Homo sapiens: one gene and its partner. The protein of the gene in region 2 interacts with the protein of the main gene of each other region in a biochemical or structural test. Each region holds a gene or a part of one and is shown on either strand. Other genes may lie near its edges.

Region 1 (3,810 bases), on a different chromosome or scaffold from region 2:
TTAATTTTAGAGCTAAGATGCCTTACTTAGCAGAGGAAATTGAAATTAGCATCTCATTCCAGCAAAACATGTCTTCAAAAGCACTGAGCACAGATGAAGCAGAGCAAGAGCATCAGGAGACAGCGTGCCAAGTGTCACCAAACGCCGGTCGGCAGCGTGCCAAGTGTCACCGAACGCCGGTCGGCAGCGCGCCGAGTGTCACCAAATGCCCATCGGCCACCCACTGCCCCACACTGCTCCAGAAGCACACACTGGGCCATGCCTGCCTCTTCCGCTCGTCTTGCCAGCCTCTCCAGAGGCTAGCTTCTCCAGAAGCTCTCTACATCCAGAAAGAAAACCACCAGGGAGAGGATCTGGAAGCGCAGTGTGACCACGAGACACCCTGTGACTGTGCACGGGCCACGTCTGCACATTGCTGGGATGGTGCTCATGTGCTGGGGACCCCCGCTGGCGAGTGACCGGCACCGAGGACTGCAGCCCCAACGCCCAAGGTAGGCTGCAGAGGCCACCTGCCCCCTTGCCAAGATGCTCCCTGAGCCAGATGCCTGTGCTCTGTGAGCTAGGCCTACATCTTGTGCATGTCTGTCTTCCCAGGGGCTCGAAGGTCCTCTGTGACATCTGAGGACAGCCAGGGCACGAAGAGCCTGCTCTAGCTGTGCAAAGCCACGATATGCACTTATCTGCTGGCTCCCCTCACCTTATCCCTCGAAGCAGGTGCTCACACAGCCCTGACACTGAGACGTAGCTGCTGCCTACCAGAAGTGACGACTTCAGCAAACAAAGACGCACACCTGCTGTGCACAAGGCAGGCCACTGAGCTGGGTGCTCTCGGGAGGGCCCGCAGTGCGCGAGGTGGGTGCTCACCTCTTGTACGCTGAGTGGTCGTTCTTCACACTGCACTTCATGTTCTTCAGCTCGTCCAGCACAGCGAACATGTTGATGAATTTGCCCAGTGTGATCAGGTAGGCTTCTGACACGAAGTCCTTCCTCCTCTCGGCATGGCACAGGCGCCTCACTTCCCCGCAGAAACGCTCAATGGCATTTCTCTGTGCAGAGGAAGCAGGAGGGCAGAAAGCTGCAGGTCAGTGAGGAGCCAAGCCCATGTCCCTCCTTCAAGCACCTGCAGTCACTGCTCCTCGATGAGAAACGATCTGCCCAGTGAGGCTCCAGGCCGAAGTGTTTACAATGTGGGCAACCAGACCCCTTCCTGAAAGCAGCTCCCACTGCCTGCTCTGCACCATCATTACTTGACTTGCACTTTACCAACTACATCACTAAAGTAACAAAATCTTGCTGATTATTCCAGCAAAATTACTGAGCAAAATGCTCCAATAAAACGCCTGTAAAATTCAGATGTTCTAACTTTCAGAAGTGAAAACTGGGAGAGATTTTTTTCCTCTTGGTAACTTTCAAGGTAAAACAAAAATTCATCTCCCAGTTAGTTCCATCTCCTCCCTTTGCTGAAGGACATCATCATAAAAAATCTGGATGTTTCCAAAATACTTCTTTAAAAAGCAGCAAGCCCCTTCCATGTGGCTACTTCTTGCCTAACCAAGGCCAGGGCGAGGACCACCAGGAATGGACAGTCAGGGTGAGGCTAACAGCAAGAAAATACCTGAAAGAGCAGACGAAAACAAAAGTACAAATTGGCCAGGCGTGGTGGCTCACACCTGTAATCTCAGCATTTTGGGAGGCCAAGATGGGCAGATCATCTGAGGTCAGGAGTTCAAAACCAGCTTGGCCAACATGGTGAAACCCTGTCTCCACTAAAAATACAAAAATTAGCTGGGCGTGGTGGCGGGCACCTGTAATCCCAGCTACTCAGGAAGCTGAGGCAGGAGAATCGCTTGAACCTGGGAGGCAGAGGTTGCAGTGAGCCGAGATCATGCCATTGCACTCTAGCCAGGGCGACAAAGCAAGACTCTGTCTCAAAAAAAAAAAAAAAAAAAAAAAGTACAAACTGGCAAAAAGTCAAAGCATTGTACTTGAAACTGACAGAAAGCAGGCTCCATGAAGGAAACATAAAATCACTCTCAGAGAAGAGAAGTGAACCACAAAAGGAGCGTTGATTCCGAAAGGGCATGAGGAACTTTAGACTGTCAAAGGCTTGGTCCCTTTTGTCTCAGAAACTGGTTGCTTTAATTTGCAGGCACTCTGTTCAGGGTGTTCACAGTGACAGTGATGGGTAGGAAGGGGTCAGCAACCCACCCCTCGGTGTTACACCCCCCCCAGATTATTTGCCATTTTACCTGGAAGTACATGAAATTCATCAGTTTTGTGACCTCAGGCTCCAGAACCTCCACGGTTTTCTCGTAGATTTCCACTCTGTTAGGCTGCTCGTTACATTTCACCTGGGAATAAAGGAACAAGGATGACATAAGAGGCTTTGATCCAGCCAGAAGCAGCCGCTGGGCTTCTAGAGCTAGTGATCCCGCCCTGCTGTGGGGTGAGAACTGGGAGGAGAGTGGGCCAGGCATGGCAGGGGCAGGGGTGTGGTGTGGCAGGGGCCTGGCAGGGTGTGGCTGGAGGGGAAGAGCCAGGCGAGCGTGGCACCTGTGGGATGGCCCGGGAGCAGCTCCTCCAGGTGTACAGCATGACAGCATATTCTTGGCCCTCCTCCAGCATCTCGTTCTGCAATGGAACACAGGGCAAATCAAAGGCAGGCGGGGGAACTAGCATGAAAAGCAGATGCCAGTTGCTAAAATCCAGACAAAGCGCCACAAACTATCCTAAGCACTGTGGCCTGTGTGCCAAGAGACGGCTGCCAGAAGCTAGTGACACTGAGGTGCGGCGCTGGGGGCCACAATGACCACCCAAAACACCCCATGGCTTCTGCAGGCGAGAGGGGTGTCAGTGACACGCAGGCATCTCTGAGGGGTGCCACAGGCGTTACACCTTGGCTCCACCCAGCCCTCAACAACCTGCTGGCCATGAGACCTGCAGTTAGGAACACAGAGGAAGGGCTCAGGGCAGACGCCCTGCCCGGTGTGAGCACACACAGGATCCCCATGGCCTCCTCACTGGCTCACAGGGCCTCCCGGTCCCAGAGAGGACTAGAGGCAGGGCTGCCAGCCCCGGGTGTGCAGGAGGAAAAGTTAGGAGCACGCCCACAGCACTTAAAATCTAGGTAGAGAGTCCATGGGAAGAGGACTGTCATCACTGCTGTAAAACTGCTTTTGCTTTCCACTCTTTAACATCGTTTCCTTTGGAAAAAATCAAATAGATGCTCTTAAATCTAGCCTTTATTTAGTGAGACGTTCATCACAGTATTTTTTTTTTTTTTTGAGACGAGTCTTGCTCTGTCCCCCAGGCTGGAGTGCAGTGGCACGATCTCAGCTCACTGCAACCTCTGCCTCCCGGGTTCAAGCAATTCTCTTGCCTCAGCCTCCTGAGTAGCTGGGATTACAGGTGTGCGCACCACCATGCCTGGTTAATTTTTGTATTTTTTTTTTTTTGTAGAGACAGGGTTTCACCATGTTGGCCAGGCTGGTCTCGAACTCCTGACCCTAGGTGATCCGCCCACTTTGGCCTCCCAAAATGCTGGGATTACAGGCGTGGGCCACTGCGCCCAGCCTACAGCATTTTTTTATTACACGACATAAAAGAGGAAGTCAATGCGCAAAAATAGTTGAATTGTGGACATTTACAAAATGGTTTACGTAGCCATTAAGGATTGCTTTCTCTAGCACATTTTCATGGCATGAAAATATTCTTGTCCAGGTGCAGTGGCTCAGGCTGTAATCCCAGTACTTTGGGAGGCTGGGCAGGCGGATTCCTTGAGTCCAGGAATTCAAGACCAACCTGGGCAAC
Region 2 (3,810 bases):
TGATATATCAGATGCTCCCTGAGAAGAAATTTCTAGAAGTGGAATTGTACAGTGCCAAATGGTCCTTCAGGAAGCTCAGGACCATTTCCTTACACCCTGCCAATACCATTTTTTTTTTACATATTTCTGTCTTCAAGCTGTTTTTTAATTAAATTTGCAATTATTCAATCACTGGCGAGACTAAATAGTTGAGGACTTTTTATATGGTTTTGTGTGTGTGTGTGTTCATTTGTTTTAAGAGACAGAGTCTCACGCTTTCACTCAGGCTAGAGTGCAGTGGTGCAGTCTTGGCTCACTGCAGCTTTGACCTCCCGGGTTCAAGCGATCCTCCCACCTGAGCCTCCTGAGTAGCTGGGGCTACAGGCATGAACCATCACACCCAGCTAATTTTTTTGTATTTATAGAGAAAAAATTTGGGTTTCCCCATGTTGCCCAGGCTGGTCTTGAACTCCTGGGCTCAAACAATCTGCCCACCTTAACCTCCCAAAGTGCTGGGATTATAGGCATGAGCCACCATGCCCAGCCTGTATATGTTTTATTATGAAGTGTCTATCCAAGTTCCTTGCCCATTCTTATACTGATATGTTCCTCTTTGTTTTGGGTTTTGTTGTTTTAATTTATAAAAGCACTTTCTACATTAAGGAACTTTTTCCAAATTTGTATTTGCCTTTTACCTCCTTTTTTTTGGGAAGAGATTTCTAGTGGCAGAATAAAGGATGGACAGATGGGGAAAATACAAAAGGGAAAAAGTGCATTACAAGTGACCTGCAAGAAGTGAGACCCCCTGAGGTTCCCTTACTCCCTCCGATCAACACACCAGCAAGACCTGTTGACACTAGCTGCAACATACATTCCAAATCCACACACCTCTCACCATCTCCACTTCCACCACCCTGCTCTGAGCTTCCCAACTGGTCTCCTTGCCTCCCCTCCCTGTTTTCTTCAAATCCATTCTCCACCCTGCAGTCTAGAAGAGCTTTCCAGAACGCATCCGAAGATGCCACCCACTTCAATCAAACCAAAGGCTTTTCCACTGCATTTAGAAAATGACCCATCTCCCCAGGTTCTATCTCCTTCCCCGGCACACCCCCAACCCCTCTCCCCCTACTTGCCACTCTAACCATTCTGGAATATTCTGGCTCTCCCAGGTTTATCAAACACACTCCTCTACTCAGGGTTATGTACATCTGCAGTCCCCCTCAGCCTCAAATTATTTTCCCCCAAATAGTCACATGGCTGGCTGGGCACAGTGGCTCAAGCCTGTAATCCCAGCACTTTGGGAGGCCAAGGAGGGTGGATCACTTGAGGCCAGGAGTTGGAGACCAGCCTGGCCAACATGGCAAAACCCTATCTCTACTAAAAATACAAAAATTAGCCGGCTGTGGTGGCGGGTGCCTATAGTCCCAACTACTTGGGAAGCTGAGGCATGAAAATCATTTGAACCCAGGAGGTAGAGGCTGCAGTGAGCCGAGATCACACCACTGCACTTCAGCCTGGGCAACAGAGCAAGATTCCATCTCCCAAAAAAAAAAAAAAGTTGAAAACAAATCAAAAGAAGAATAATACTTCACGGCCCATGAAAATTATAACAAATTCAAATTTCAGTCCATAAATAAAGTTTTATTGGAACACAGGCACGCCCATTGGCTTTCGGATTATCTCTGGCTGCTTTTGCACTACAGCAGCAGAGTGGATTAGTTGTGACAGAGACCATATGGGATGCTCTCACTGCTTGTCACTGCCTCTGGCGCACTACAGATCACACCGATGCAGCCGTAACTCAGTTTTGCCTCATGGCCCACACAGCCTAAAATGTTTCCTGGCCTTTTACAGAAAGATTTGCCAACGCAAGTTAAGAAGGAGAAGGCTTTAAGAAATGTTTCTGGCCGGGCGCAGTGGCTCATGCCTGTAACCCTAGCACTTTGGGAGGCCAAGGCGGGCGGATCATGAGGTCAGGAGTTTGAGTCCAGCCTGACCAGCGTGGTGAAACCCCATCTCTATTAAAAATACAAAAATTAGCCGGGCGTGGTGGTGCGTGCCTGTAATAGCTACTCAGGAGGCTGAGGCAGGAGAATCGCTTGAACCCAGGAGGTGGAGGTTGCAGTGAGCCAAGATCGTGCCTTTACACTCCAGCCTGAGCGACAGAGCAAGACTCCGTCTCAAAAAAAAAAAAAAGAAAAAAAGAAATGCTTCTAAGGAAGAAGGGAAGGGACGAGGCTTGCTAGCCTACTGAACAGGAGAGGAAAGGTAAGGGGAGAGATATCAGGGAACTTGGTGGACAGATGGTGGTGACATTCACTAAAGTTTAGAGCAGGGGTGTCCAATCTTTTGGCTTCCCTGGGCCACACTGAAAGAAGAAAAATTATATTGGGCCTCACATAAAATACACTAACGCTACTATAGCTGATGAGCTAAAAAATATATATCTCACAAAAAAAAAAAACCCTCATGTTTTAAGAAAGTTTACAAACCTAAGAACAGGCACGGTGGTTCACGCCTGTAATCCCAGCACTTTGGGAGGCCAAGGCAGGTGGATCACCTGAGGTGGGAAGTTCAAGACCAGACTGACCAACATGGAGAAATCCCATCTCTACTAAAAATACAAAACTAGCCGGGTGTGGTGGCGCATGCCCGTAATCCCAGCTACCCAGGAGGCTGAGGTAGGAGGATCGCTAGAACCCAGGAGGCAGAGGTTACAGTGAGCCGAGATCACGCCATTGTACTCCAGCCTGGGCAACGAGAGCGGAACTCCGTCTCAAAAAAAAAAAAAGAAAGTTTCCAAATTTGTGTTGGGCCCCATTCAAAGGCCATCCTGGGCCACATGTTCCACAAGCTTGGTTTAGAGGTTGGGAACAGAAGGCAGTGAAGAGGCTGGGCACGGTGGCTCATGCCTGTAATCTCAGCACTTTGGGAGGCCAAGGTGGGAGGATCACTTGAGCCCAAGAGTTTGAGACCAGTCTGAGAAACATGGTGAAACCCTGTCTCTACAAAAAATACAAAAATTAGCCAGGCATGGTGGCAGGTGCCTATAGTCCAAGCTACTTGGAGGATCGTTTGAGCCCAGGAGGTCAAGGCAGCAGTGAGCCATGATCATGCCACTATACTCCAGCCTGGGCAACAGAGCAAGACCCTGTGTCAAAAAAAAAAAAAAAAAAGGCAGTAAGGAGAGGAGAGAGGGCTGGGCACGGTGGCTCACGCCTGTAATCCCAGCACTTTGGGAGGCTGAGGCGGGTGAATCACAAAGTCAGGAGTTCGAGACCAGCCTGGCCAACCTGGTGAAACCCCACCTCTACTAAAAATACAAAAATTAGCCAGGCATGGTGGTGGAAGCCTGTAATCACAGCTACTCAGGAGGCTGAGGCAGGAGAATCACTTGAACCCAGGAGGCGGAGGTTGTAGTGAGCCGAGATCACGCCACTGCACTCCAGCCTGGGCAACAAAGCAAGACTCCATCTCAAAAAAAAAAAAAAAAAAGAGGAGAGAGATGATGAGTTTAGTTTTGACATATGAAATTTGAGTACCTAGAGGTTGAATCTGAAAACCAGCTCCAAGCTCAAGAAGAGTAGTAGACGGAGAACTAGGAAGTTAAACTAAAAACAAATTCTTAAAGATGGTAGGGAAGACAGAAAACGTGAAGAAAGGAGGTGGGTGGATCCTCTTAAGACTCCTCAAAAACTTCTCACAGTTCATATACCTACTGCAACTAAACTTTCACAACGTCACAACATGTTCTGGTCAGCCAAGGAAAAGCCAGAGAGATCTGCCAGCCGCCACTTCTTCTTCTCGCCATAGGCATAAATACCACCCCAG

Evidence for each region.
Region 1: the proteins of GAS7 (region 2) and CYFIP1 form a complex in vitro, tested with the Homo sapiens proteins (one study listed by BioGRID).

What each region holds. Positions count from the first base shown.
Region 1 is NC_000015.10:22,942,309-22,946,118, forward strand, and holds part of CYFIP1 (cytoplasmic FMR1-interacting protein 1), read right to left. Parts: intron 2,632-3,810; coding exon 2,554-2,631; intron 2,352-2,553; coding exon 2,250-2,351; intron 1,047-2,249; coding exon 865-1,046; intron 1-864. UniProt on the Homo sapiens protein: Component of the CYFIP1-EIF4E-FMR1 complex which binds to the mRNA cap and mediates translational repression. In the CYFIP1-EIF4E-FMR1 complex this subunit is an adapter between EIF4E and FMR1.
Region 2 is NC_000017.11:10,188,419-10,192,228, forward strand, and holds part of GAS7 (growth arrest-specific protein 7), read right to left. Parts: intron 1-3,810. UniProt on the Homo sapiens protein: May play a role in promoting maturation and morphological differentiation of cerebellar neurons.